Regions from separate parts of the Homo sapiens genome. Here all the other regions are linked to region 1. Evidence: fine-mapped expression QTL. A gene starts in region 1. Each other region holds a variant in brackets. All regions are shown on one strand. Distances are between the middles of the regions.

Evidence for each region.
Region 2: its variant is fine-mapped to the expression of ST20-AS1 in whole blood (TOPMed, PIP above 0.99).
Region 3: its variant is fine-mapped to the expression of ST20-AS1 in regulatory T cells (Bossini-Castillo 2019, PIP 0.95).
Region 4: its variant is fine-mapped to the expression of ST20-AS1 in neutrophils (BLUEPRINT, PIP 0.95).
Region 5: its variant is fine-mapped to the expression of ST20-AS1 in skeletal muscle (GTEx, PIP 0.97).

The regions. Positions count from the first base shown.
Region 1 is chr15:79,919,237-79,924,916 of GRCh38, reverse strand. It overlaps ST20-AS1 (ST20 antisense RNA 1), which reads right to left and starts at 2,146. Exons shown (of 1, transcript NR_028330.1): 1 at 63-2,146. It overlaps ST20-MTHFS (ST20-MTHFS readthrough), which reads left to right and starts at 1,825. Exons shown (of 4, transcript NM_001199760.2): 1 at 1,825-1,878. It overlaps ST20 (suppressor of tumorigenicity 20), which reads left to right and starts at 1,165. Exons shown (of 3, transcript NR_037653.2): 1 at 1,165-1,465. RefSeq lists enhancers at 1-586, 788-837, 1,268-1,447 and silencers at 978-1,127, 1,748-1,797, 1,808-1,877, 1,898-2,007.
Region 2 is chr15:79,895,505-79,901,504 of GRCh38, reverse strand. All of the region lies in intron 2 of ST20-MTHFS (ST20-MTHFS readthrough), which reads left to right. It overlaps MTHFS (methenyltetrahydrofolate synthetase), which reads left to right and starts at 4,491. Exons shown (of 3, transcript NM_006441.4): 1 at 4,491-4,633. The coding sequence starts at 4,517. ST20 (suppressor of tumorigenicity 20) reads left to right here. Exons shown (of 3, transcript NR_037653.2): 3 at 2,380-2,663. RefSeq lists an enhancer at 3,993-4,042 and a silencer at 4,183-4,482. The variant T/C (reference allele first, on the strand shown) is at 2,509.
Region 3 is chr15:80,000,913-80,007,284 of GRCh38, reverse strand. No RefSeq gene overlaps it. Among named protein-coding and RNA genes, the nearest start is that of BCL2A1, 33 kb to the right of the region's middle. RefSeq lists enhancers at 2,590-3,360, 3,361-4,133, 3,171-4,370, 4,134-4,905, 4,906-5,678. The variant G/A (reference allele first, on the strand shown) is at 2,763.
Region 4 is chr15:79,446,719-79,453,090 of GRCh38, reverse strand. All of the region lies in intron 1 of MINAR1 (membrane integral NOTCH2 associated receptor 1), which reads right to left. Among named protein-coding and RNA genes, the nearest start is that of MINAR1, 18 kb to the right of the region's middle. The variant G/T (reference allele first, on the strand shown) is at 3,430.
Region 5 is chr15:80,121,639-80,128,010 of GRCh38, reverse strand. It overlaps ZFAND6 (zinc finger AN1-type containing 6), which reads right to left. Exons shown (of 7, transcript NM_019006.4): 4 at 6,191-6,299; 5 at 5,211-5,311. Among named protein-coding and RNA genes, the nearest start is that of FAH, 28 kb to the left of the region's middle. The variant GATGGT/T (reference allele first, on the strand shown) is at 2,647.

The sequences.
Region 1 (5,680 bases):
CTAGTACACATCGTAAAGGCAGATTTTCACACTCATACAATTTTCTGCATTCTTCAGTATCTGTCAGCGTGTTCAAATACTTTTAATACACAACTTTTAATACACAAGACACACTTTGGAAAACTTTTTCCGAAGAAAATGATCCAAAGAGCAGAATGTGAGTCAATAAACGGAGAAAGGCAAGCAGCGGTTTTCCATCTTCTGCGCCAGTGTGCTGTAAACTTTTAAGTCCGGAAAACTATGTTTTAACCGATGAGATAATGCCTTTCAAAGTGATTAGCACGACCGGGCGCGCGGTGGCTGACGCCAGTAATCCCAGCACTTTTGAGTGGCTGAGGTGAGCGGATCACCCTGAGGTCAGGGTCGAGACCAGCCTGGCCAAAATGGCGAAACCCCGTCTCTACTAAAATACAAAAATCAGCGAGGCGTGGTGGCGCCCGCCTGTAATCCCAGTTACTCGGGAGGCTGAGGCAGGAGAATCGCTTTAAACCGGGAGGCGGAGGTTGCAGAGCCAAGATCGGGCCATTGCACTCCAGCCTCGGTGACAAAATATAATAATAATAAAATTAAAAAGGGCTTAGCATAGTATCTGGCCAGTAAGAAGAAATTATGATTATTATTTTGACCTTAGACCTCTCTTAACTGTCTGAAATTCGGGTTTCTTAAAGGACACAGGCGGTCTCTGAGGCTCCCGCCAGCGGAAACAATCTCCCATTAAAATAGGCATCGGTTAAATATTTGCTGAACAAAGTAAACTACGTCTCCCCGAATCCCATTGAGCGCCTACTCGAGATCCGGACCGGAGCCGGGCAGGACGGGCCCGTCGGTCCCACACGCCGTATAAGTGGGTGGAGAATACCCCACACGCCCAGACCAATAGGCGGGGTGAACGAGGACCGTGTTCACCAACTCAGCCCGGCTCGCGGAATGCCTTCTGTTCGCCTCCGGGCTTGCAGTGGCTTTCCGTCGCAGGTCAGGCCGCGTTCCACTTCCGCCGGCAGTCCAGACACGCCCCTCCGGGTCCAATCCCCGCCCCTCACACACCTGGCCCCGCCCCGTCGGGAGCTCGGCGGTCCTCTCTGCGCTAGGTCTTCTTAGCGCCCGACGGGGCCACGCCCATCCCCGACGCTCTGAGGTCACCTACAGGGCCGACCCTCGGTGGGCGGAGGGACGGAGGGAAGATGGCTGCAGAGACCGGATATTGGCGCTGCCTCCCCGAATCCCGGACCTGCGCTGAGGAGGCGGTTCATCTGTGGCCAGCGGTGCTTCGGGACCCGCGCTGGGGGAACCCTGGCGACGGGGCCTGGCCCTGCTATATGCGGGGGCCTCGGCTGGAGTGAGCGGCGTGGACGCCTCTTTCCTCCGGCTCTTCCCTTGTTGCTGCGAGAGCGAGAGGGCCGCGGGCGGCGGAGGCAGCGGGGCCGGGATGGAGGACGTTAACTCTAACGTGAACGCGGACCAGGAGGTGCGGAAGCTGCAGGTGCCGGTGAAGAAGCTGGGGAAGCAGCACGAACAGCCGAGGAGCCGCTCGCGCTGTGCTGGGCCCCGGCTCCATCGCGGTTCGCCGGCTCCTCCACTCCCTCCTACGGCGCGGGGTCCCCTCGGGGCTTCCCCTTGGGTCTCAGCGCAAAGTCGGGCGGCGGGGCCGGATGGACCCGAGGCGGACGAATAACGAGGAGCTGCGAGACGCCACCTTCTTGCTGGCGGCGGGGGAGGGCGGCTTGCTAGACGACCTGGAGCGTCTGTCAGGCTAGGAGGAGGGGGAGGAGAGCTGGTGAGCGCCGGGCGCCGGGCGGGGCTGGGCGGGGACGCCCCGGTGGCGGAGGACGTCCCGGAGGATCCCTCTGGTCGGGCGCCTGGCTTTGTGTAGCCAGCCAGGTCCGCTCTCGGCGGGTACTCGTGGTCTTGCTCTGGCAGAGGGGAGGTCAGTTGGAGTTGGGGGTTCGAGGCTTGCAAGTACAGGGCTTGTAGCTCCTTCTCTGGATTGTGGACCCTCTGGGTGCTGGGCCCTATTGGGGTTGGTGGGTTGGTTGGATCCAGAAGGGCTGTTCGCCGTGGGGAGGAGTCGGAGGTGGGAAACTGCTTTGTAGGCAGGGATTCTGCTTTGTATAGGAGACCAGCTTTCGGATGCTGGTCTGGGCATTTTGGATGTTGGGGAGGGGTTTGGCTTGATGAGGTATCACCAAGTTCGGGGGGTGCAGACCAAAGTCGCCGACGTCTATGCAGCGGTTGGTGTTTGGGATCAATTTCTAGCGTGGATGGGGAGACCATGTGGATCAGCACTCCCCTTTAGGTAGTGGGGTAAAGCTTGCTCTGTGTGAAGAGGTCAGAGGATGGTGGTGTTTTGTGTGAAGAATCAAGGGTGAAACAAGAGCCCTGGCTCTGATATTTTAAAACAAGAATTGAGTCTGGCATTTTGCAGAGCTCTGAATTGACATTTATCACATCTATCCTTCATTTCCATGTCCTCCTATGGGCAGAAAAGAGTCCTATTTTAATACCTAAACCAAAGCTGTATTGTCATAAGCCACTTCTTGATGAAATTGTGACACACACCTTAATATCACTTTCATAAATAGGAAATGGGAGGCTTTTCTCCTCATTTTATTATAAAGATGTCTGTGGGAAATTCTCTTAATTCATCCTCTTTAAAATTTTACCTTTTAGCTAAAATGTCTCTGTTGAAATTCAAATTTCTAACTTAGTGAAATCGAAATCATTCATAGACTGTAGTATTGCAGGGCTCGAACTGTGCAGTGTTCTGAGGTAGTTAAGAGCTTTGCTGGATTCAGGCCCTGGGTTTGCCCAGGCCTGTATGACCTTGAGCAAGTTATTCTGAGCTTCACTTTCTTCCTCTATGATGGAGAAAATAATGATAGCACTTACCTCTATAGAGTTATGAAAATTTAGTAAGATAATCCATGTATGCATTTAGCACTGTTGAGATCTTGGCTTACTGCAAGCTCCGCCTCCTGGGTTCACACCGTTCTCCTGCCTCAGCCTCCCGAGTAGTTGGGACTACAGGCACTGGCCACCACTCCCTGCTAATTTTTTGTTTTCGTATTTTTAGAAGAGACGGGTTTCACCGTGTTAGCCAGGATGGCCTCGATCTGACCTCGTGATCCTCCCGCCTCGGCCTTCCAAAGAGCTGGGATTACAGGCATGAGCCACCATGCCCAGCCTATTACTCTTAAGCCTAGTTATTTAAATCAAACATTTAGTGAGCTCTTACATGATGTTATAGGAGACTCTGAAGATTCTCAACTGTTGATTCCTGTTCATAAGGCAGTTATAGTCTTGTTGAGAACTAAGTTTTATGCAGATAAATAAACTAGAAAGTGTATGGTGAATTGCCGAAAGAGAGAACAAAAGTACTGTCAGTGCGCAGTAACTGGGAAGAAAACAGTAGTCCAAAGTAGAGGGGCCAAACTTTGAGGAGGAGGCTTTGGAGTCTGGAAGTGAGGAAAGAGTGGGAAGGGCATTTTATGCTCTGACAGCTACAAGAGCAGAGTCAGAGATATTTGTAACTCCCAGTTAGGAGATTTGAATAACAGAAGTACTCTTGAGTATATGGTGACAAACCTTTATTTTTTATTTACTATTTTTTTTTTTTTTTGAGACGGAGTCTCGCTCTGTTGCCCTGGCTGGAGTGCAGTGGCATGATCTCAGCTCACTGCAACCTCCGCCTCCCAGGTTCAAGCAATTCTTCTGCCCCAGCCTCCCAAGTAGCTGGGACTGCAGGTGCCCACCCCCATGCCCAGCTAATTTTTGTGTTTTTAGTAGAGATGGAGTTTCACCATACTGGCCAGGCTGGTCTCGAACTCCAGACCTCGTGATCTGCCCGCCTTGGCCTCCCAAAGTGCTGCGTGAGCCACCGCACCCAGCCGACAAACCTTTATTACCAGGTGATATCAAATATTATTAGAGCTGACTGTGGTAGTGACAGTTTTTCATATAAATGAAATTGCATCCTCCCAAAGGAATCCTGAGTATGTATGCACTTTAAAAGAACCCAGAATCATCTAAATATTGTCACATGGCTCTTGCAAGTGATGATAATAGTGATGCTTATAATAATGAGGATTAGCTGCACTCATCAGCCTGTAGAAAGTAAAAAGTTTCCTTTTCGAAATTTCCTTTCTTGTTAAAGAATAAATCATAAGTGTTAGAAATAATAGTTTCTTTTAAAGACTAACTTCCTTCAAGCCTCCTCTGCTCTGTGCTAATGACTCTTCATTAAGCCCTATCCTATGTAGCTGTTAGATATAAGGGAATAAGTATATTCTATGTCCTTGTACTTTAACCAAGATATTTGTGCTGGACATGCTCACAGGCACGTTCCAGCTTGCAGCCTATGCCCCTTCCTTATTTGGAAATATTATTACTTTTCTAAGTCTTTTTGCAAGCAACTTCTTCTTTTCCTTTGTTCTCTATTGCCTTTCCCTATATAGGAAAGTTTTAAGTTATTAGCCAGTCGGGTTTAATTTAAATTGTGAGGTCCAGCTCCAGCCAATGGAGACAGGACACAAGCTGCATAAGGGATAAAAACTGCTTCCCTCCTTTGTTCGGGTGTGCTGTCACCATTGTTTCATCTGTGAGGAGCACCCTTTCTGCAGAAAGTAAAATTGCCTTGCTGAAAAAACTTTTTGTCTAAATGCTGGTTTTTCCTTGCAGTACCTAGGAGCAAGCATTCTGTTTCTAAATAAACATTTTACTTGTAACAATGGCGGTGGCCTGTACAGGGAGCCATTCTCCTCCGGGGGTGGGGGGGTGGGTCTCTGGTCCTCTCTCATGAGGAAGGCGCCCCACTGCCTTGTTGTAGCGGCCTCAGGGTAAGGAATCGAGACCCACCAGTTATGACAAATAAACTGGACTCTCAGCAATGTGGAAAGAAACCGGCTGGTGACCTGGAGTAAAAGATCCTCACATACCACCTGGACCAGGCAACTCTGCACAGACCAAGAAAGGAAATGCCAGGGGAGACAGTAAAATACTTCCTTGGTGGTCAGGACTAAGGAAAAAGAAGCCACAGGGCAGTGAAGCATTCTTTGGTTGGGACATACCAAGGTAAAGCATTCCTTAGGACTAAGGAAAGAAAAGCCGCGGGGAGGGGGGGCGGGGGTGGTGAAGTATTCCTTAGTCGAGGTGTCTTGGAGGTTAAAAAGAGGTGAAAAATCCCCATTAGGGGGAGATTGAACCTCACAGAAACTTCCGGTCATAGGAAAAATGTTCAAAACTTCCCTTTCCCCTATTCTTGGGGGAAGAAAGAGGCAAGGGAAAGAGCAGCAGAGAAGAAAGAGAAACTAGGAAAGGAAGTCAGAGAAAGCAAGAGCAGCGAACGTGGCTCCACATTGTTGTGGATTGCTGGCACCTGGCAGAGCGGCAGTGGCTGAGACACTCTCCTCACTCCCGGCCGAGCCAGCCAGAGCCAGCCAGAGCCACCCAGGCTGCTGGCCCCCGAGCCCCGCACCTTCCGTGCTGCTCGGGTGCATCCTGCCACCCTCAGAGGCTAGCTGGCCACGGACACCTGCAAGTTGGAGCCGAGTGGGAGACAATGAGCGCACCGGAGCCAGGAGCCTGTGCCACGCAGCCAGGCAGCCAGGCGCGCCAGAGGGTGGGTCCCTCTCCCCAGCCTGGCTCTGTGTGGAAGAGGGCAGGGACCGGTGCCGGGAGGAGAGCA
Region 2 (6,000 bases), 24 kb after region 1:
AACATTAGGCATTAATTTCTAATGTCTACAGAATAGTTCATTAATTTGCCATATCATAATTTACTTAACCAATTCCCAATTGTTAGACAATTTGGTTTTGATTTTCCCCCTTTTATTTATTTATTTATTTTTTGAGACAGAGTCTCACTCTGTCATCCAGGCTGTAGTGCAGTGGCTTGATCTTGGCTCACTGCAACCTTCACCTCCCAGGTTCAAGCAATTCTCCTGCCTCAGCCTCCTCAGTAGCTGGGATTACAGGCATGTACCACCACACCCAGCTAATTTTTGAATTTTTAGTAGAGACAGAGTTTCACCACATTGGCCAGGCTGGTCTCGAACTCCTGACCTCAAGTGATCTCCCCACCTCAGCCTCCCAAAGTGCTGGGTTTATAGTTCTGAGCCACTTCGCCCAGCCTGGTTTTCCCCTTTTAGATATAATGGTTCAGTAGTGAAGCATAGGTATGCTTTTCTGGTGCCCCCTACCTTCCAATATTTTAGAAGACTGCCTCATGATAAATTTCTAACAGTGGAGTAACTGGTTCATAAGATGTGTGTATAATTACGATATTCTAGCATACTGGAAAACATATTTTCTTTTCGAAAGTATTATATCAATAGAACAATATCATAGCAACCTTATCAGTGTGGGTGGTACTATTAATAATTTTGAGGGTTTAATAGGCATCAAATAAAGCCACTTTAATAGGTCTAAAAAAAATAAGACTTTGTTAAAATGTACATTTCTTTAACTGCTATTAATGTTTTTCTCATATACTTGTGAATGATTTATATTTCTCTGTTTAATGGTCTCTCCTTTTTAAACTATTAAGGGCCTGAGAATTTTCTCTCACATTTGAATGAACACTTTCATGGTATATGTAAATATTTTCCTAGTTTATTGTTCTTTTTAGTTTTTCATAGTTAAAAAAATTTTTAATCTTCATCTGGCTGAATTTATCAATATTTTCTTTGTTCACTGTCCTTTCTTTAGACGTTGATGTATATGACATGTTAACTGATCAATGATAATAGACAATGATTATCGTTATAATAAAAGTCATTTCAGAGGGTCTCATCATACTTGCGAAATATGGTGTTTAGGAAGGGGCGTAATGAAGTGGATACCTCCCTAGAGTGTAATCTATGAGTATGTACTGGCAGAAGGGAAAGAGGAAGAAGAGGGGCAGTTTCCTTCCTCTGTCAAGGCATGACAGCATGTCTCAGAGCACGACGCACACTTACGTAGGCAGAAAATGGCTTTCTAAGTCTTTCAAATGAAATCCCCCTGGCTGGTGGTATTCATCTGCTTTGCCAGTGATGTTCATAAAATGATTCCAAGGCACCGCAGAGCTCTCGAATCTCTCCCAACTATCAAAGGGTTATGCTTGGTTTACGTTTCAATATTAGTTACACTTTGCTCTGAGCTACTTGCAGGCATTTGTAACCCCAGGTTCTGGAACCTGTAAGATGCAGCCACAAATGTTTGCTAGATGAACATTCGAAAAAATTATTTTAACAATTTTCGAATATTTTGGCACTTGTTTGGAAATGTATGGAGTGGAAAGAAGTAGGGTATTTGCATTCTAATCCAGGTCCAGGCACCAAGGGTTTGGCTAATCTTAGATAACTGATTTTTTTTGTGGGCCTCACTTTCCTCATTTGTTAAGAGAGAGCATTAGGCTAGATGATCTCAGAGGGACTTTTCAGTGAGGATTCTATGATTATAGATTGTAAATTAAATAAAATGTCCAGTTAATTGGGTTATCCTACATTTTTAAAACTATGTCCGATCACAAAGAGAGTAGATTATAAAAGAAACCATCAACCTTTTCATAGCTTCAAAGGTATTGGTTTAATTTGGATTTACTGTGAGTTCTCATGAGTTTCAATACAATGCAGTTTACAGTATAATAGAATTCATATTACAAATATAAGTGCATTGAAATCAATGTTGGACAATTAAACAAGAACAAGAACAAAAAGACTTTTTATCCTCTAGAGCTGTGCTTGCTGTTCACTATGGTAGTAAAATGTGGCTAGTCTGAATTAAGATACGCTGTAAGTACTAAATACTCATGAGATTTTGAAGGTTTGTTATGAAAAAAACTATCTCATTAGTGATTTGACATTGATTACATACAGAAATCATTATCACTAAATATATCTTAAAAATTAATTTTTCCTATTTTTGTACTTTTTAAAATGTGGCTACCAAAAATTAAAATTACAGATGTAGGCCACACTGTGTTTCTGTTACACAATGCTCCTTTAGAGGGATAGAAGATTATTTGCATTATTTAAATGAAAATATTTTTGCTTTTTATTCCAGCATACTTAATCTCCAATGATTTTTAAAATGTTAAATTTATTCTCTCATAGGAAAATGGCTTTGTAAAGAAGCTTGAGCCTAAATCTGGCTGGATGACTTTTCTAGAAGTTACAGGAAAGATCTGTGAAATGCTCTTCTGTCCTGAAGCAATACTGTTGACCAGAAAGGACACTCCATAT[T/C]GTGAAACCGGCCTAATTTTTCTGACTCTTACGAAAACGATTGCCAACACATACTTCTACTTTTAAATAAACAACTTTGATGATGTAACTTGACCTTCCAGAGTTACAGAAATTTTGTCCCTATTTAATGAATAAATTGTATGTATTTTTCTCTATATGCCATTTTTGTCTTCAGTTTTGGAGTCTGGCTGGAAATTCAGCCAAAGGGTAAAAGCTCAACACAGGATCCAGGCAATTAATTATGGGATGATGACCAGGAAGGCGGTGTCTTTTCTGCCCCAGGCAGACTTTTAAGGTGTGCCATTACCCCAAAAGTCCTTTTCTGTGTCACTAGGCTAGACTGCAGACTAGACTGAGAAGCGGACTCAGGCTAGAAGCAGACTCAGGTCGGCTTCCCTCTTCCCTCCTTCCTTCCCATGCTTTCTGCAGTTTCCAGTGCCCCTGGCTGCTTAAGAGTTTCCATTGATGCCTCCTCCCCAGCCTTCTCTCTCTGGCTTGCCATTTGGGGTTGATGGATATGGCAACCTGATATGCAGGATACTCTGGGATATTCTGAACAAAGAAAATTGGTAAATGATTCAACGTGGAGCTAGTGTTAATTTTAATTTTTATTTTTTGGTAAAAATGAACAGATTAGAAAAGTACGTAGTTTGTTAGACCTCGTGTTCTAACTTTTAGGTCAGCAAATCTAATTGCACTATGTATACGCTGTACCTGCCTGGCCTTCCCTTTTTCTTACAACACAGTCCCCCTGGGACTTGCATTAGCTTTCCCTGGAAGCTGTTGATAGATTCCATAAAGAAGCCAGAACTCCCCTCTCAAGCCATGTGCATTCTCACCGGGCACTTAATTAATGCTTTACCTAGGAGGTGTGATTCTTAACGGTGGGGATTAAGACACTGGGGCGGTCAGTAGGGACGTATTTTTGGCAGAGACAGCTCTGGTTTTCTTAGGAAGTCACATCTGAGAGGCAACCGTCTATGCCATCTGAGGCGCCTGTCTACTGGGAGCAGTTTAAGACTTAACAGTTTCTTTTACCTCTTCCTGCAAGTGCCTCACCCACCCCCCAACTGCTTTTAGTTTTAATTCATTTTTGTGTTTTAATCAGAGCTGAGTGGTGGGAATGAACAGTCACTGATGGTTATAACAGGAAGTACCTATGTGGGCACTATTACCTGGAATACATTCACACTAGAAACCCGCAAAATTTGGCTTTTACACTACAGTTATTGCTTTAGCAGTGTTCCCGATTATGTATCATCTATACATTCATCACATAAGGACATTTCCATCAACCACTGTGGTCCCTTAAGATTATAATGGAGCTGAAAAATTCCTAATACCTACTGATGTGGTAGCCAACCAACACATTACCTTTTCTGTGTTTAGATACACAAGTATCACGGTGCTTACAATTGCCTACAGTATTCGGTACAAAATACGCTGTACAGGTGTGTAGCATAGGTGTGTAGTAACTTTGTGTAACTACACTCTGATGTTTGCACAAGAAGGAAATCGGGGCATCTGTCAGACCTATCCCTGTAGTTAAGCGACTCGTGACGATTTCGCTACATGTCCTGCCTTGCCCTTCTTTTCTGGCCCCTGAAGTCCCACTACTGAACAGTACAAGAGATGCCAGGCACCGTGGGTACTGCCGGCCATCTTTACCATCCCCGCCAGTGGCGCTGCCGCCTCCGCGGTCCCGGTGAGGGCCCAGGCTCAGGGAGGTCAGGCGGCAGGGCAGCGACGGCGCCTCGCCACCGCTCCCCTAACCGGGGAGGGCGAGCCGGACCACGGGGACCGCACGAGGGCTGGGTCCCAAGGGCCAGAGGCGAGGTAAGCGCGCGGCGCGCCGCGGGCCCGCGTCCCGGAAGCGGGGTGGGGGCGCTTCCCCGAGCCCCGACCCGCCCCTAGGCCGCGGATCCACCTGGGAGCGGCCAGGGGCGGAGACCGAACCCGAGGGCGCCCAGGGCGCCGAGGGCGGGACTGGACTCGGCTTGGGCGTGAGATGGCGGCGGCAGCGGTGAGCAGCGCCAAGCGGAGCCTGCGGGGAGAGCTGAAGCAGCGTCTGCGGGCGATGAGTGCCGAGGAGCGGCTACGCCAGTCCCGCGTACTGAGCCAGAAGGTGCGAGGCCGCCCGTAGCGGAAGCCGCGGCGGACAGACCCTCCGAAGGCCTGGCGGCCAGCGATTGCTGATCTGTGCATGGTCCGTGCTGGCGCTGGGCTAGGCGCCCCCCCACCCCCCGGCGCGCGCACGTTTCCCCTCCCGGCGCGCGCACGCCCCCTAGTCGTGGTCTGGACGCTCTTGGCACTATGGCGGGGAGAGGGCCCGGTAGTGAAAGTTGTGGGGCTAAAGAGCGAGAGGACGGCAGGGGTTGACAGATTTATCTCTGGGAGGGGAGTTTGTTTGCATGGGTGGCTCTTTTGGTGCTCGAAAACCCTCCGTGGGGATGACGGTGCTGTGGTGAGAGCACGGTGAGAACAGAAAGTTGTGGTAGAGGAGATGGGTGAACACCTGAGTGCCCAGGTTCCCTCAGTGAGGCCTAAAGTTAATGAGCTACGAGTAAGACTCCGGTTATATTAGTAAAATGGCCAGAGAAAGATGCAGGTGCTTTAGACGAGGGAACACCAAAAAAGGTGTGGAGATGCCAAAGGGCAGAACTCAGAGGTTGACTGGACTTCACTAAGCATATGGAGGGCTAAGGCTGTGTCTCAGTAGCTCCAGGGCCTAGGCTTTTCCTGTCTCAGAGTTGGTCAACATTAAATGCTTTTTCTTGAGTGAACGAAAGGAAGACTTGGCTATCATATCCAGGCTTCCCAAGAACGTAGGAAACAGAAGAGAGAAATGAGAGGAATAAGTGAGGGTCCGTGTTTGTTGGTTAGCAGACCTCTGTTTCATTACTTTCACCAACTGCACTGCTATGTATTTTTAGTCTATGTAATGTCAGTTTTCTTATCAATAAAATGGCAGTCATATCCTGTTGTGAAGGCATGTTCTAAAGAGTTTTTGGGGACTCATTTTTGTTAGACACCAGAGGAAGAAAAATTTAATGTCCCCTGAATAAGTACGTATTTGTAATTCTGTTGTAAGTCAAACTGATGATCTGTCTTCCCAGCATCATGCTTCAGAGACACCAGATATTTGGAAACTTGATGTTCCTTGGAATTAGTTATACCATCAGGCTTTCTTAATTACCCTTCACTATTCTATTATCCGTTATTTACTCAAATTCAAGGTGCCTATGGGTTAAAGCAGTAAAGCATATATGCTCATTTCACCCCTCTCTTCATCTATGTAGGTGTGTATGAGGGAATCTATACAGATGTTAATTCGTTCGTTCAAACAGAATTATTTTAGCTATTATGAGGAAGCATTGCTGGGTGTTTTAGTAGATGTAAAGGATATAGACTCTTGTCCTTACTATCTAGTTGTTTAAAATTTAGCTAATTCATTCACATATGTTGAACACCTATGTAGTGCACACTTGGCTA
Region 3 (6,372 bases), 82 kb before region 1:
ACGATATCAGCCATGCGGCTGAAGTCTGTTGTTTAGCTTATGTAACTATCACATTTTTGCTTTTATTGAATCATGATAAAGACTGGAAGCAGAGACAAATTCTGAATATTATCTTTTGCCCTGCAAGAAATGGCAGGAGTCTTTATCAGTAAGAGCACACAAGAATGGGAAGTTCGGAGCTGGCACTCGCTGGAGACCCAGGCTGAGTACACTGGTTCTAAGAAGGCTAGGGGCCAGATGGGTTTTCAGGACAGAGACTCAGGTCTCTGTGACACAGGGACGAGCAGCCAGACTGCCTTGTTGCTGAAGCCCCTCAAAGCTTCTGGAGCTCCCTAATTCTCCCAGTCTTGAAGCTTGGGACATGGGAGTTACAGAGTCTGTAGAAGAGAGTCAGAGAACCACAGGCACAGGAAAGGAGGCCAGCAGGGAGCCCAACAGGTGCTGCTGTGCTCCAGGACAAATGGTCAACACAATAGGACTTCCCACTTACTGCCCAGTACTCGTCCTCATTAGCTCACCTTCTAGCTAATTTGAATGATGTTTGTTTATATTAGTGTTCTTACTCACTGATGAAGGTGAGAGGACGTTTTCCAAGATATTCAGCCAATTCAAGAATTTTGCTGTGAAGAATTGAGATGCCAGGATGGGCCAGGCGCCGTGGCTCACGCCTGTAATCCCATCATTTTGGGAGACTGAGGCAAGTGGATCACCTGAGGTCAGGAGATTGAGACCAGCCTGGACAACATGGTGAAACCCCGACTCTACTAAAAGTACAAAATTAGCCAGGTGTGTTGGTACGTGCTTGTAGTCCCAGTTACTCGGGAGGCTGGGGCAGGAGAACTGCTTGAATCCAGGAGGCAGAGGTTGCAGTGAGCCGAGATCACACCACTGCACTCCAGCCTGGGCTATAGAGCGAGACTCCATCTCAAAAAAAAAGAGAAAGAAAGAAAAAAAAGAGATGCAAGGGTGTGGAGTGTAAGGAGGAATTGAGGAAACAACCCACCTGGACTGCCACAGGCCTTTGGCACCCAGTGTTAAGACTTTACTGCCCCTTTCAACACCATAATCAACAAAGCCTGCCTGTGAAAAATCTCAGGAGACAGTCTGATCTTTTTGTATTTTGAAGCAGCTGAGGCCTGCTCCACCTGTGAGATCACCTTATTCCACTAATGACCTTAATTGCTGAATCCTTTAAAATGCCAGTGTTGGCCCAGCCCCAGTAATGGTGATGGATGGAAGCCCGGAGCCAGTCAGTCTGCAATGTTTCAGCAACCTCACAGGCACAGAGTGCTCCGAGGCTGCTGGAGGGTATGCCAAAGAAGACGAAGAATTACTAGTGGCTCCTCTTCCAGAGCCCTCTAATCTGGGTAGGGAAGAAGCCTTACAGGGACTTGAGTCTGATGCTGGGAGGAGGCCTGATGCATATTATCATTCAGCAGTGCCTCCAGGATAAAGTCCCACATCCTTCCTCTCTCTCTCTCTCTCTCTCTCTCTCTCTCTCTATTATATAATATATATATAGAATAACACATATAATATATTATATATAACCTATGTTATATATTATATAATATATAAAATATATTATATATTATATAAAATACCTTATATATACACATATATACTATACTATATAATATACTATATGTTATATACCATATATTGTACTATATGTTATATACCATATATTATACTATATGGTATATACCATATATTATACTATATGGTATATACCATATATTATACACTATATAATATACCATATATTATACACTATATAATATACCATATATTATATTATATACTATATAATATACCATGTATTATATACTATATAATATACCATGTATTATATACTATATAATATACCATGTATTATATACTATATAATATACCATGTATTATATACTATATAATATACCATGTATTATATACTATATAATATACCATGTATTATATACTATATAATATATAATATAATATATAATATATTATATACTATATAATATATAATATAATATATAATATATTATATACTATATAATATATAATATAATATATAATATATTATATACTATATAATATATAATATAATATATAATATATTATATACTATATACTATAAAATATATAATATATTATATACTATAAAATGTATATTATATACTATAAAATATATAATATATTATATACTATATAAAATATATAATATATTATATACTATATAATATATAAAATATATAATATATTATATACTATATAATATATAAAATATATAACATATTATATACTATATAATATATAAAATATATAATATATTATATACTATATAATATATTTGTTATATATAAAATATATTATATAGTATATAATAATGTTATATATAAAATATATAATATATAGTATATAAAATATATGCACATATATAATATATATTATATATTATATAATATAATATATATTATATATTATATAATATAATATATATTATATATTATATAATATATAATATTTTATATATATATTATATATATATATATTATATATATATAATTATAAATATAATATATAAAATTATATATAATATATAATATATAATATATAATATATAAATATAGAAATATATTATATAATATATTATATATTATATAATATATAAATATATAATTATATATAATATATTTTATAATATATATAATTATATATAATAATATATACTATATTATATAATTATATATAATAATATATACTATATTATATAC[G/A]TATTAAAAAAAGAAACTTTAAAATTAACGGAATATATAATATACTATATATACATATATAGTATATACATATATAAATAAAAAATATATATTTTTAAACATTCAAATTACAGAAAAAACAACATATAAGGAGATACTATCTTCTCCATGAGGTGAAGTTTTGTGCAATTAGAAAAGAATTTCTCTTCCTCCAGCAGACCCAGCACATGCCAGGGTGAATACCTTTGCCCTCTTGGCTGGTACCTGGATGCAGGGCACAAATTTCAGTCATGTGTGGTGGTTCTATTCACAGTCCTTCATAGCCTGGCCTTGAATTGTCCTGGTTTTGTCTCCCACTGCACGCTTCCTTGTTGTGGGACCTTCAGACAGCCTTCCATACTTCCGCCAATCCACTAGCTTGGTACGCCCCAGGCCCTGTATCTCCCTCGTGCTCTCTGCCCTGTCTATAAAAACCTTCCTTCCCTTCTCTATCTGGTCAAGTCCTACATGTTACTGATTTTTACCTGTAATTTTTTTTGTTTTGAAATGGAGTTTCGCTCTTGTTGCCCAGACTGGAGTACAGTGGCGGGATCTTGGCTCACTGCAACCACCACCTCCCAGGTTCAAGCAATTCTTCTGCCTCAGCCTCCCGAGTAGCTGGGATTATAGGCACTTGCCACCGTGCCCGGCTAATTTTTTGTGTTTTTAGTAAAGACGGGGTTTCATCGTGTTGGTCAGGCTGGTCTCAAACTCCTGACCCCAGGTGAGCCACCCGCCTCAGCCTCCCAAAGTGCTAGGATTACAGGCCTGAGCCACTGCGCCCGGCCTTCCCTGTTAATTTTAAAGTTTCTTTTTTTTTTTTAATATTGCAAAATGTAACACTTACTTGGAGAAGTGTTATCAAACATAAACTCACAGTTCCATAAACTGTAATTCACACTCATCGTGAAATAGAACATTCCCAGTACTCCAGCATCACCTCCTCCACTTCAACTCCCCGTTCTCCCAAAGGCCTTGTTCTATCTGCAATTGTCTCCCTCTATCATTCTGACTGCCAGAGATGGTGAATTCGTCTTCAAAGGGTTTAATTGTGTAATGTCCTTGTCCTTGGTTCGGAGCCTCACCTCCTTGTACTTTCTTGTTTCTAGCCTGTGAGCAGCCCTCCCGCTCTTGTTGTGCCCGGACTTGCCCAGACATGTCCGAACACGCCTTGTGCTGTAGCAGAGGGACCACTCCTATCCCCCACCCTCCCTTGCGAATCGCACGTTTACCCTAATTGGAAAAGTATGTCTTTTTTTGTTTTTTTTTTTTGAGATGGAATCTCGCTCTGTCGCCAGGCTGGAGTGCAGTGGTGCAGTCTCAGCTCACTGCAGCCTCCGTCTCCAGGGGTTCAAGCAATTCTCCTGCCTCAGACTCCCGAGTATCTGGGACCACAGGCGCGGGCCACCACGCCCGGCTAATTTTTTTGTATTTTTAGTAGAGACGGGGTTTCACCATGTTGGCCAGGATGGTCTTGATCTCCTGACCTCGTGATCCGCCCACCTGGGCTTCCCAAAGTGCTGGGATTACAGGCGTGAGCCACCATGCCCGGCTGAAAAGTTTAAGTCTTAGCCAACTGGGGTTAGCTTAGGTTGTGCAGTCCAACCCTAGCCAATAGGGGAAGGACACAGGAATAGGGACTATGTTAGGGATAAAAACTCCTCTCCTTTGTTAGTTGTGCTCGCAGCGGCCAGAAGCATGAGCGGCAGCCTTCTGTAGAAGTAAACTTGCTTTGCTGAGAAACCTATTGTTTGAGTGCTTGTTTTTCCTGCGACTCCGAGCTCTTATTTCCAACACTGACTTTTAAGGAAACCACTTTCCTGTCTTTTTTTTTTTTTTTTTTTTTTTTAAGAGACATGATCTCACCATGTTGCCCAGGGTGGACTCAAACTCCTGGACTCAAGCAGTTCTCCTGCCTCAGCCTCCTAAGTAGCTGGGATGACAGGCATGCGCCACCATATTCAGCTCCTGCTTTTTTTTTTCTTTTGAAAATTTGGATTATTTCTAGTTTTTGATGTTTCTGAGTAATGCTGCTATCAGCATTTTTTTTGCATGTCTCCTGCACTATACATGCATGTATTTCTGCTAGGTACAAACCTGAGATGGAATTTCTGATCTTAGAGTGTGCATATCACCAACTTTAATAAATACAGCAAAGTAGTGATTGTACCAATTTACACTTCAGCCGTATACGAGAGAAGCAGCTACTCTATATCTGTCCCAACACTTGGTAACATGGTCTTTTAAATTTTAGTCATTTTGGTGGGTGTAAATAGTTTTGCTTGTTTGTTTGAGATAGAGTTTTGCTCTCCTGCCCAGGCTGGAGTGCAGTGGCGTGATCTCGGTTCACTGCAACCTCTGTCTCCTGGGTTCAAGCAATTCTCCTGCCTCACCCTCCCAAGTAGCTGGGATTACAGGTGCCCACTACCACGACGGGGTTTCATCATGTTGGCCAGGCTGGTCTCGAACTCCCGACCTCAAATGATCCACCTGCCTGGGCCTTCCAAACTGCTGAGATTACAGGCGTAAGCCACCGTGCCCAGCCCGTAAATGGTTTTTATTTGTATTTCCCTGTTGATTATTGAGATTGAGCACGTTTTCATATATTTATTGGCCATTTAGTATCCTCTATTGCAAAGTGCTTATTCATGTCTTTTACTCATTTATTTACTGTGTGCTCTGTATTTTTCTTTCCTTATTCTGTAGGTATACACACACATACACAAACATGTACATAGAGTCAGCTCTTTATATAATATGGATATAATGCTTTGTCTGTTACAAGTATTGCAAATACCCCCACCACTCAGAGGCTTGTCATTCTCTTAACGTCATCTTTTGATAAAGGGAAGTTTTTAATTGTTAACATGGTGAAATCTATCAGTCCTTTCCTTACTATTAGTGCTTTAATGTCCTTTTTTTTTTTTTTTTTTTTTTTTTTTTTGAGACGGAGTCTTGCTTTGTCGCCCAGGCTCGAGTGCAGTGGCAGAATCTCGGCTCACTGCAAGCTCCGTCTCCTAGGTTCACACCATTCTCCTGCCTCAGCCTCCTGAGTAGTTGGGACTACAGGTGCCAGCCACCATGGCCGGCTAATTTTTTTGTATTTTTAGTAGAGACGGGGTTTCACCATGTTAGCCAGGATGGTCTCGATCTCCTGACCTCGTGATCCACCCACCTTGGCCTCCCAAACTTTTGGGATTACAGGTGTGAGTCACTGCGCCGGGCCTTAATTTCCTATTTAAGAAATATTCGTCATGAATATGTTCTTTTATAGTATCTAGTAGAAGCTTTTAAAAATATTTAAAATAGAAATATAACATGCAGAAAGTGCATACGTTGTATGAAGCTTGAGTATGCAACTCAGTAGATTTTTACGTACATCTATACCCAGAGAACCTCTATTCAGAGCAAGTTGGATATTTACAGCAAACCATAAGGTTTCCCAATCAATTACAACTCCATCCTTAAGGCCATCACTATTCTAACTTCTGTTCATCTTTTCTCCTTGTTGTTGGATATTTGGGTTGTTTCAGTTTGGGGGTATTACAAATAAATTGCTGTGAACATTCTTGTATGTGTCTTTTGATGCACA
Region 4 (6,372 bases), 470 kb after region 1:
TGCATCACAGTCTGAAGCCGGATCTGGTCAGAGCAAGGCAGAAATAGCCGCCTGGAATCTCTGGGGGCTGAGCAAACTGCCCTGGGACATATGTGCATGCACATATGTCCCAGGGCAGCTTCACATTCACACAGACTCACCCATACACTCACACGCAGACACATTCACATAGCTTCACTCAGATTCACCCAGACACACCTACACACACTCACACAGCTTCACACTCACACAGACTCACCCATACACTCACATGCAGACACACTGACAGCTTCACACCCACAGAGCTTCACACTTAGACTCACCTAGACACAGACACGCACACAGCTTCACTCACCCACACACCCCCCCCACACACCCACACAGACTCACCCACACCCACACACTCATCCAGACACCCACACACACACACCCAGACTCATACCCACACCCACACTCACCCAGACACACACCCACACACACACAGACTCATCCAGACACCCAGACTAACCCAGACTCACACCTACACAGACTCACCCATACACTCACACACACAGACTCACCCACACACACCCACACACTCACCCAGTCATACCCATACATTCATATAGCTTCACACTCAGACTCAAATCCACACACAGCTTCACACCCAGACTCACACCCACACACACTCACACAGACTCACCCACACACTCATACAGCTTCACACTTGCACAGCTTCAGTCATGCAGACTCAGGGACATACATATACCCAGACACACTCACACAGCTTCAGTCACACTCATCCAGACACACACATCCAGACACTTGCACAGCTTCCCAGCTTCACACTCACACAGACCTAAACACACAGACTCACGCTCATGCACATACACACAACACATTCATACACACTCTCAAGCACACACACATTCACCTACACACACTCACACAGACCTACACTCATACACAGCTGCACACACATACGCTGTCGCACTTCCACACACCCATGTGTACACACAATTCACACAAGTACTCAAGCTCCCACACATCCACAAACACATTCACACCTCTGCACACACACACATTCACAAACACGTATACACCACATACACAGGCTCACTCACAATCTCCACACTCTTTCTCTCCTAGGTGTCTCTTAGCTCTGTTCTCTCCTAAGTGTCTCTTAGCTCTGTCCTCAGGGTTTAAACTTTCTTAACATCCCAGCACATCTCCATGCATATTTTGGGGGCTAAGCAGCCAACAAATCCACCCCTCTCTGGCGTTTGGGAAGCTGACCCCATGATGCCGCACATTGCCTGCCAACAAGACCTGCAAACACAGCCACTGCAGCACCCTGTCACCCCCACCCCCATGTGGAAAAGCTCCGCAAAGACTCTGAGAGGCCAATCACAGGACTTCCATCCCACCTGGCTTCAGAGCTCCTTGCTGAGGAACAGCCATGCCCAGCGCGGCAGGGAAGCTGGCAGGAGGAGGAGCCGGTGAGCAGCAGAGATCCGAAAATCATGAGGCCAGACTGGGGATTGCCTGCAGCACATCAGGCCCCCATCGGGCCCAACTGACTGCCCAAGCCAACACCGTAGCCCAGGCCTCCCCTCCCCTGTGTCTCCCGCAGACCCGTCTGCTTGGAGGCCTGCTGCCTCGGCTGCCCACATCCTCCCGCAGTCCTGCTCACCCACGCCGGCTCCTGGAACAGCCCTTCTGCCCCAGTCCCTCGCCAGGTCCCAGAGTCTCCTCTGTTCCCTCCGTGGTGCTCAACAGCCCTCCGCCTGTGCCTTGGCTAAAGCGCTTATCACGCAGGAGTTTTCAACCAGGTAAGATTCACCTGGGATGGTTTTAAAACATTGAGACCTGGCCTCCCCTACCCTAGACCAGTTAAATCAGAATTCCTAGGAGGGGTCCAGGTCTTTAGGAGTTTTAAAAGCCACCCCAAATTTCTGAACCATGGGCCTCCAGATTTTGGGACCAAGAAGCCCCATTTAATAAGTCGGAGGGATGAGGTTTGTGAAAGGCATTGAAGCCTAATGGTAGAGAGGAGCGACAGGGGCCCACAGACCTGGGCTCAGACTCCAGTCCTGCCCACTATGTGACGTTGGATAGGTTACTTACAGCTCCCACACCCTGCCTCAGTTTTTTCATCTGTAACAATGGGTTTAATTAACAAGCATATGTAAAGCACTTAATAATAAAGAGCTTCCCATGTGACAGGCATTCAACAAATAACAGCTGTCACTCATGGAACAGCTGTAGCAATGGGAATTCTAGCAGTCTCAGTGGCTTCATGCCTCACAGCACCCTCTGCAGGTTATAAAAAAGGAGTATTTTTGAAAAATGACTCTATTCTGTACAAAGAGCAAGAGACGCCTGCCTAAAGCGGGATTCTGGCCTCTCAAGTTTTACATTTTCAACTTATTTAAAGACTTTTAGTTTCTCATTATAAAAAGCTTCATCCTCAACCACATGCTCCCATGGACCTTCAGTAGACTAATGATTTACTGCCTCTCTCTAGGCTGCACATGACCTCAGAGGGGAATAACAAATTGGCTGTGGGGTTCATTATTCAGCTTTTTTTTTTTTTTAATAGGAAGACAGTTCAGAAAACTGATTCCATGAAAAGTTCTGAAAGCCAGAGGTTGAAATTGCTCACTCAGAATTAATGGGGGTGCTCTCGTCGCCCGCCAATCCAAACTACAGCACACCCTCCTCACTATGTGACTCTTACTTTGTGCGTCTGCCTTATGTGTCCTTGAAGATTCTGTAGGTGTCCAGCCCCCACTAAAACTTGTTTCTGAGCACCCAGAAGGTGCATGAGACTGGGCTAGGCACAGCTGAGAAAGGTAAAGGGAAGAAAACACTCTTTAGAGCGGGCTGGATGGGACCACAGTGAACTCCAGCCTAACCCTTCATTTTATGGTCAAGAAAACTGGGGTCCAGAGAGTAACATGACTTTTCAAAGGCACATGTAGAGCTAGTGGCAGAACTGTCCCCAACACCCAGGGTTCCTGACCCCTAGGCTGTTTTCATAAATGTCTGCAAGAATGCCAGTTCTGACTGTCAAGTGCCAGAGGAGCATAAACATGGAGCTGGGAACCCGATTAAGGGGGAGATGAATTCCAGCCATGGGGAAAAGGTAAAGCTGGCTTCACAGAGAAGGTGCCATCTGCAGTGGCCGCAAAGACTAAAGAGGAGGGGAGTGTTTGATGGTCTGGAGAAAAGGGACAGGGTAGGTACTCTAGGCAGAGGGCAGAAGGCATGACGGTACAGGGCAGCAGAGAAGAGTCTGTATGTCTGGTAGGGATGGAGAGAAGGAGGTGGAGCTGGACAAACAATTTAGATAGGGAGTGCTATGGTTTGATTGTGTCCCTTCAAGATTCAGGTGTTGCCAGTGTGATAGTTTTAAGAAGTAGGACCTTTAAGACCCCTTCCCAGGAATTCTGATTTAACTGGTCTAGG[G/T]TAGGGGAGGCCAGGTCTCAATAGGTTTTAAAAACCATCCCAGGTGATTGTGATTAGGCCATAAGGGCTCCTCCCTAATGAATGGGTTTCATGCCCTTATAAAATGAGGCTTTGTGCAGCATTCTGCTAGCTTGCCCTTTTGCCCTTTTGTTATGTGAAGATGCAGCAAAAATGCCCCCACCAGATACATCAGAAACTGGCACCTTGATCTTGGACTTCCCGGCCTCCAGAGCTATGAGAAGTAAATTTCTGTTCCTTATAAATTACCTAGTCTCATGTATTCTGTTATAGCAACACAAACATACTAAGATAGGGCGTACACTAAACTCTGGGCTGGGAGTCTGAACTCAATTCTGTAGTAAATGAGAGCTGGGAACTGACAAAGTGGGTGTTAGAGCAGAGCAAGCCTGAGGTTAAGATGAGCACTGCAACCTACAGGATACGCTGATGGGGATCCATATTGTCTTAGCCCCTTTCAAAACCTCCTACCCGTATACAGCGAAGGGAAGAACTCCAGGCTCCTCTAATTCCTAACCCATAGGTATTTCCACTAGGTAATAGTCTGTAGTTTGGGAAAGGCCAGAACCAGATGCCTGATTTTTTTTCCCATTACCCTGTGGCACCTTGTTCATTTCTCATGCCACATTCTGGGCATGATAAATGTTGTTGCTGTCCAGTCTACAGAGCTAAAATGAATACCCACCCTTTCACAATCTTACGCATATTCAACTGCTCACACTCTTGGCATCTAATGTTAATCAAAGCAGAGCAAAAAGAGAGAGAGATGATTTAGGGATATAGTTTGTAGTATTGCTGCTTGAATCTTTGGACAAAAGACAAGCTCTCTGAATTTCATTTCCAACAACTCCATTAGAAATCTAATCTTCCCTTCTGCTACCAACAGCCCCAAAATGAATGACATATACCTTGAACTGGATTAGCAAAACTCAGTTATAAAGTATTCTTATCAAACCTTTCCAATACGCCAAAATATATTGATCTTTCAAAAACTGAAATAAAGTGCAGAGATATAACAGCCACAATGTTCTCATTTCACGCTCACGAAAGCACACTGCAAGAGAATTCATCTGCAGTATTCATGTAATTCCTGCGTCGGTGTTGGCCTGCTTGTTTTGAATTTTGTCTTGCTTCTGGTTTTAGGATGGTGGTTGCTACTGTGATTTGGTGAAACTATAAAAGGAAGCTATCAATTTAGGAATATAAAATTTGTGATTAAGAATTTCTACATTGTTTGTGTCACCTCTAATAAAATTTCAAACTTAAGGGGGAACACTTTCTCTCCCAGAGATAGCCATCTTCCACAAAAAAATTGCTAAAGAGGGCAGCAAGGAGTTGGGAAGGGGTTACACTTCTGTTTCTCAAGACGTATACCTGCAGAGCTCAACCCTAGTGCAAAGCCCTTGGTTAAGAAGTCAAGTGATTATGAAGCAATTTCCAGATCTGGCAAGAAAGTAAGCTTAGAGAATGTGAAAAACTCTGATTATGAACACCTCAAAATGCTGGATAAGATGCAAATTTTTTTCTTAACGGGCATAACTAAACTTGCGAGAGCAAGCTAAATGCCCAGATTCCAGAAATAGAGAAGAGATTGAAAAATCACAGAGGTAGACAGGAGAGCTGGCACTGTGGCTGCCCTAAGAGTAAAGGGGATGGTCCTTCTAAGGTAGATTAGGATAGGCCTTCCATGAGATGGAGAGTAGAAACACAGATGTCTGCATAAAGCTGGGACCCTTGAAGGACTATTCTCTAGCTTTATGTGAAAGGATGAAAAAAATCTGGTGCACAGTAAACAAGGACACTTGTCAGCCTCTGCCTGGGCTCTGGGTTAAATAAAGTAAAAAATTACCCCTTAGAAATGGAAAACAAGGCCAATGTCTTAAATATTTTGGGGCCCAAATTTATGTTGTCACGGTGTGCAAGAACTCTTGAGCTAAGAAATTAATGTAAAAAATCAGTTCCATGCTGCTAATGTCCATGGCTGCAAGCAGAAACAAGAGCAAAAGTACTCAAGACAATCAAAGGTGCATAGGAGCACCACAGAGAAAAGAATCCACCTTAAGGTTGAATTATATTTTTAAAAATTACAACACACAAGAGAAAATACTACTCAATGAGTAAGAATCAGCAGACACAAAATCACCAGCAGGATTAGAACTTCAAGAACCTAAAATAAATGAATCCACAATCTTAAAGAAGATACAAATATACTTAAAATAAGTAAAGGCATAAAATTAATAGAAAATCCAAATAAAAGAAGACACTATGAAAAAAGTACATACAGATCTGGAAAAGAAGTATACTAATAGAAAAAGAATCATTAAAATACAAAACACAGTGGCATTAAATAGCATATTAGATCTAAATAAAGAGAAAGTCTATGAACTGGAAGATAGGTCTAAGGGAATTTAGCTGAATGCAGCACAAAGAGATACAAAGATAAAAGACATGAAACTGGCCGGGGGCAGTGGCTCACACCTGTAATCCCAGAGCTTTGGGAGGCTGAGGTGGGTGGATCATTTGAGGTCAGGAGTTCAAGACCAGCCTGGCCAACATGGTGAAACCCTGTCTCTACTAAAAATACAAAAAGTTAGCTGGGCATGGTGGCATGCACCTGTAATCCCAGCTACTCGGGAGGCTGAGGCATGAGAAGCTTTTGGACCCAGGAGGCAAAGGTTGTAGTGAGTTGAGACTGCATCACAGCACTCTAGCCTGAGTGACAGAGTGAGACTCTGTCTCAAAAAACAAAACAGCAACAATGACAACAACAAAAACCATTAAATCAAGCTTAAGAGACATGAGCATAGAAGGATAAGTTTCAGCAAATATCTATTTGGAATTCTAGGAGAGAGAAAAGAGAATGGCAGAAAGATGATAAAAGTGATAATATATAAGAATGTTCCAGAATTGAAAGCATGAATCTTC
Region 5 (6,372 bases), 200 kb before region 1:
CTCTTTGTGACTGAATATTCTACTGTACGGATATACCACATTTTTTTTTATCCAATGATCTATTTACAGCCATCTCAGTAGTTTCTATTTTTTATTATAGATAATACTGCTACGAACACTTGTGTACACGTTTTTGTGTGGACGTATGTTTTCAATTCTCCTGGCAATCAGGAGAAAAATGCTGGGTCATATGACAATTCTTTTTAATTTTTTGTGGAGCTAGGAGATTGTTTTCCAGAGTATCTGGCACCATATTACACTCCCACCAAGGCAGGAGGGCTCCAATTTTTCTACATCCTTGACAATACTTTGTTATTGATTAGAGCCATCCTAGTGGATACGAAGTGGTGTCCCATGACTTCCATTTCCCTCATATCTAATGAAGTTGAGCATGGTTTTTTTTTTTTTTTTTTTTTTTTTTGAGATGGAGTTTTGCCCTTTTGCCCAGGCTGGAGTGCAGTGGCACAATCTCAGCTCACTGCAACCTCCACCTCCCAAGTTCAAGCAATTCTCCTCTGCCTCAGCCTCACGAGTATCTGAGACTACAGGCGCATGACATCACAGCCAGCTAAGTTTCATATTTTTAGTAGAGATGGGGTTTCACCATGTTGGCCAAGCTGGTCTCCAACTCCTGACTTAAGGTGATCCGCCCGCCTCAGCCTCCCAAAGTGCTGGGATTACAGATGTGAACCACCGCACCCGGCCCTGTTGAGCATCTTTTCATGTGTTTATTGGAAACTTGTATATCTTTTCTGGAGAAATGTCCACTCAAATCCTTTGCTTATTTTTAAAATGGGTTTTCTATTGTTGAATTGTAATTATTTATATATCCTTATCACATATATGATTTCAAAGTATTTTTTCTCTCATTCTGTAGGCTGGTTTTCCACTCTTTTATTTTTTGAGAGAGGGTCTCATTCTGTGACCCAGGCTGAAGTGCAGTGGTGCGTTAATGGCTCACTGCAGCCTCAACATCCCAAGTTCAAGTGATCCTCCCACCTCAGCCTCCCTACCCAGTAGCTGGGACTACAAGCGTGCGCCACCACACTCGGCTATTTTTTGTACAGATGGGGTTTTGCCATGTTGCCCAGGCTGGTTTCAAACTCTTGAGCTCAAGTGATCTGCCCACCTTGGCCTCCCAAAGTGCTGGGATTACAGGCATAAGTCACTGCACCTGGCTGTTTTTCCACTCTTTTAAGCAAAAATCTTTATTTTGATGTAGCTCAATTTATCTATAATTTCTTTGGCTGCTTGTGGTTAAGGTGTCATATCTAAGAAACCACTGCCTAAACCAAGATCACAAAAATGTATACCTGCTTTAAGAGTTTTATAGTTCTCTTATATTCGTTTTAGGTCTTTGATGTATTTCGGGTGAATTTTTGCATATGGTATGACATAGGAGTCCAATTCATTCTTTCGAATGTGGATATGAAGTTGTTCCTGCATCATTTGTTTAAAAGATTACTCTTTTCCCATCAAATGATTTTGGCACCATTGTTGAAAGTCAATGGCCCATAAATATAATAAGAGTTTATTTCTGGACTCTCAATTTTTTATTCCACTTACCTTCATGACTATCCTCATGCCGGTACAACACAGTCTTGATTACTGTAGCTTGTACTCAATTTTGAAGCCAGGAATTGTTAGTCCTCCAACTTTGTTATTTTTCAAGATACCTTTGGCTATTCTCACTCATTCTTTAGAATCAGAAGAAATGCCTGATTTTTAAAACCCATACAGCTTTCCTAAATCAGTCCAAAGAGACTGTCCCCCTCTGATTTTTCTGAACCAATGATTTGACAATTCAACTTTGTATAAAGTCAGAAACCCTCAGAGTAGGAAAGAGCCTGAGAATTCTAGTTCATCCTGTCACTAAGCACAGCATTCCTCTCTCTATATGGTCTCTAACATCAACTCATCTTTCCTAGAATGCTTCAGTGATGTAGACCTTACCATCTTAACATATGACATCATTCGAGTGTTGGAAAGCTTCAAAATTCTCTCTTACTCTAGGCCTCCTACAACTCCCAAATCACTTGGGCAATATAAAGAATATCTTCTGCAGCTTACAAAGCTCATCCAACCTCCATTATCTCAGTATCTTTTAATACCCTGTAAGAGGGACATTCTTATTCTCTTTTAAGAGTAATGAAAGTAAGGCTCAGTGAAGTTAAGCAGGCATACCAAGATAGGAAAATAGAACTTATGAATCCAAATTCAGTATTTTTCTACTATGACCCAAGATCTGAGGGACTAAGAGGTTGACCAAATTTAAGCATATTCTTCAACAGTTTTAGAGTGTACCAAAATGCTTAAAGTAGTTCTTTTAAAAGCTAGCATTTGTGAACTGGAAATTTGACTTATACTCCTGAGTGACACTATGTAAGTAAGGTACTGCTATATTTTTAAATCAAAAAGAACAACTAAGAAACATGCTTCAATATGCTAAATTCTCAATGAAACATAAAAATTCTTCAGAGCCATGTGGCCAATATGAAAGCAGTACCACCAACCTGGTGGCAGCATATCCTAATTATAAGCAGAATACATGTAGAGAAAAAGTTGTTCTGAATGTTCCAATTACAAAATGTTACAAACTTCTGGCTTAGACATATAGCTGCTACTCATATACCTTCTTCCATTTGG[GATGGT/T]TTTCCTATCTATATAAATTTCCCTTGAGGGAAGCATATGGAGTGAGGAAGAAGAAAACTGATACCTGGGTAGTTTGCTAAACGAGTTGATCCTACCCTGAGAACTGAGGGAGATGTATGTGTTAACAGGAATACACATATCCACATCCTAGTCCAACAAGCTCCACAACTGTCTAATCATAAGAATACTGGCCTCTATGAGTTAGGTCCCTGGATTCCAGTTCCAGCTTTTATGACCATATGACTGACTCAAAGAGACTTTTTCTGTCTCTTTTCATCCATCTATTAAATAAATGGAAAAAAAGTTATTTGAATTTGATCAATAGGGAAATCGTAATTGCATGTAAGTGTATGAGTGTGTGCACATACAGAATATACACGTACATATATACAAACATACATGTTTATATTTGTGTATGTTTATAATAAAAAGGGTATTCTTAATTCAATAATATGTTAAATTTTTTTTAAAAACTAGGTTGTTAAGAGATTTTACATACTGGAACCTAACCCTCCTCTCTTAAAACTGAGATGAAACTTATACCTAATTTATCAAAGATTTGCTGCTGATATTACGAATGCTAAGTTTTTTAAAGGTACTTACAAGTTAATACTGGTTTAACCTAAAAGTCATTCAAATCATGTATGAAAAATGGGGCCTATACAATTTCTCCTAATATGGCATCAGGACCACCTTTTGAAGTGATATACTCAGGGCTAAGTGGAGAAAACGGTATTGTTTTCCATACACCACAAATGGAAATAAAAACACTTTTATAAATAAATGGTATAAAAACACTTCCTATGTGTTATGATAGTTCACCAATCTATGACCTTTATTCTTTGTCAAACTTCTGTAAATACTATTGTATTCTTAAGCTTTATACATTTTTTTCACTGCCAACATTCTAAATTTTTTTTTTTTTTGAGACGGAGTCTCGCTCTGTTGCCCAGGCTGGAGTGCAGTGGCGCCATCTCGGCTCACCGCAAGCTCCGCCTCCCAGGTTCATGCCATTCTCCTGCCTCAGCCTCCCCAGTAGCTAGGACTACAGATGCCCGCCACCACGCCCAGCTAATTTTTTGTATTTTTAGTAGAGACAGGGTTTCACCGTGTTAGCCAGGATGGTCTCGATCTCCTGACCTCGTGATCCACCCGCTTCAGCCTCCCAAAGTGCTGGGATTACAGGCGTGAGCCACCGCGCCCAGTCTTTTCCTTATTTCTTTAAAGATTCCTCATTTCTGCCCTTCCTTAAATTTTTTGATGTAACTAAGAAATAAGAATTATTCACTTAAAACATTTAAGAATTTATCACAATATGCTAGATGGGACTAGAATATTTACGTTGACCACACAGAATATTCTTTTGTTACGGCAAAATCTACACAAACAAGCAAACTGGTTCAAGTATTTGCTGGGTATGAAAAAAAAGCAAGAGGAACTACCTAGCTTATTTAAATTTGTTTATTTAATTCTTGAGACCGGGTGTGGGGGAATTGCTCTGGTGCCCACCCAGGCTGGAGTGCAGTGGCACGATCATAGCTCACCGCAGCCTGAATTCCTGGGCTCAAGCAATCCTCCCACGTCAGCTTCCTGAGTAGTTGTGACTACAGGTATGTGCCGCCTCACCTGGCTAATTTTTTGTTGTCCAGGCTAGTCTCAAACTCCCAGACTCAAGCGATCCTCCTGCCTTAGCCTCTCAAGTAGGTAGGGATTATAGGCACAAGCCACAGTGCCTGGCCTAAATTAAAAATTTAGCCATCTTAAACTAGGATTGGCAGATGTATCTGTTACCATCATGTGAACACCATGTGCAATGAAGTTTCACTGGTAAATCATCTCACAGGCAGAATGACACACTGCTCTTCATTAGGCTTATCTTTCCAGAGATCCTTCCTTGTTACCATGTTATTTCCACACACTGCTAGAATACAACTAATTAAGCAGAGATTATTTAATAGCCTCCAAAATGGCCTACTCCGCATTCTCTCTCCCTACTACGAAAGCCTTCATACAAATTTTCAAGTCTTCCTAGATCACTTTGAGCTTCATAATGGGGATATGAAGAGCATGGGCAAGACACGATAGATACCATGCTGTGAATACGAGCAACTGAATGTGACTATTGCACACATGGGGAAGAAAAAAGGAGAACTGCCAGGCACGATGGACACAGTCTCTCAGATAATGAGTCAAAACACAAAAGAAAGAGATGCCCCTCAAACCAGCAGCCCCAGTTTTCTTACAGAGTAGTATATAGACTGAAACGGCCAAAATAGTAAAAGAGAACAGTGTAACACTGCCACACATTCATTTAATTATATTTTCCAAACTAAACAAATTTTGAATTTGCAACATTTATGCTGATGATAAAATTACATGTAAGTGTGAAATGGCTCCCCAACATGTTAATTAAATACTTAAAGATATAAAGTATTGTGTTCATAGGGAAAACAGAAAAACATGTATTTTAAGCTGGCAATTTTTTTATACATGCACCTAGGATAGTGTCTGGCCTATAATACTCAAATAACAAAATACATGCTAGTTCATATACAAACCCTGCACATCTTCTGTTTCAGGTACTGCTTTGTCCACAGATGTACTGTCCAATTGAGAAGATGCTACAGATTCTGATAAAAGTGACTGATTTGATACAGGGCTAGAAAAGCAAAATATTTCATTTTAAAAGGTGATCTCTACACATGAATATTAACTAATGTGACACAGTAAGAGTTCAACATATCTAAGTAGATAATTAAGATGAGAACACAGACATACTTTTTTTTAATAACTTAAACATAATCATAGAGCTTTAAAACTAGAGACTAATTTGGACCAGAATTTTACTGCCTTGGAAACAAAGCAACAGTGTATATGTCCTTTGTGTATTTCAAGTACCACATGAATTCACTAAATGAAAACTAGCATGATAAAGACATGCTTAAAGAACCCTAAGACAAAGCTGTAAATGATATTCTGGCATAGCAAAACTGAACATATCTTATCATGAACTGGAAAAAAGGAACCCCAGTGTAGGAACTTAATATATTGGTTCCTAAAAGCAGAATAAAAATGAAACCAGTATTGCTGTATGCAGGCTTCTAAATGATGTGACTTCAGAGTTAAAAAATATATATATACACATTACAATATAAACAAATATGAGTACTACATCATGATATTAAACAAAGATAATGTGTGACAAGACTGTATTTTTTTAATACACGGTAGTAATACTTGCAGAATAAGACTAACATTTCACTTAACATGCTTCCAAAGGACTTCAGGAGTAGGTCAGGATATATTATGAGAAAGAAAAAGATGCCTGAAAAAGAAATCTAAGACTTAAACGATAACCCCCGATCCCTCAAGGTAAAAGCAAGAAATCGCTTTTTCTAACTAGTTATAATCAGACGATAAAATTTTAGGCCAGTTAATCTAAAAGTAGCTTTACGTAGTTTTCCTTATTAATCAAACACAGAATATACTCTTTAGTTTTTATTAGCATTCTCATTAGAATTCAGAGAGTACATCTTACCTGGGCTGCATAGATGAAGATGTAGAGTCTAATGCTGACTGGGCTTCTGGCACACTGCCATCTGTGCATTGAACTGGTAAAGATTCAGACAGACTACTGACAGAGGTTGCTGTAACAGTACCACATTGCGTATTAGTGATTCTATATGCTCAGCAGTCTAAGACCTTATCTAAAAAAATCAA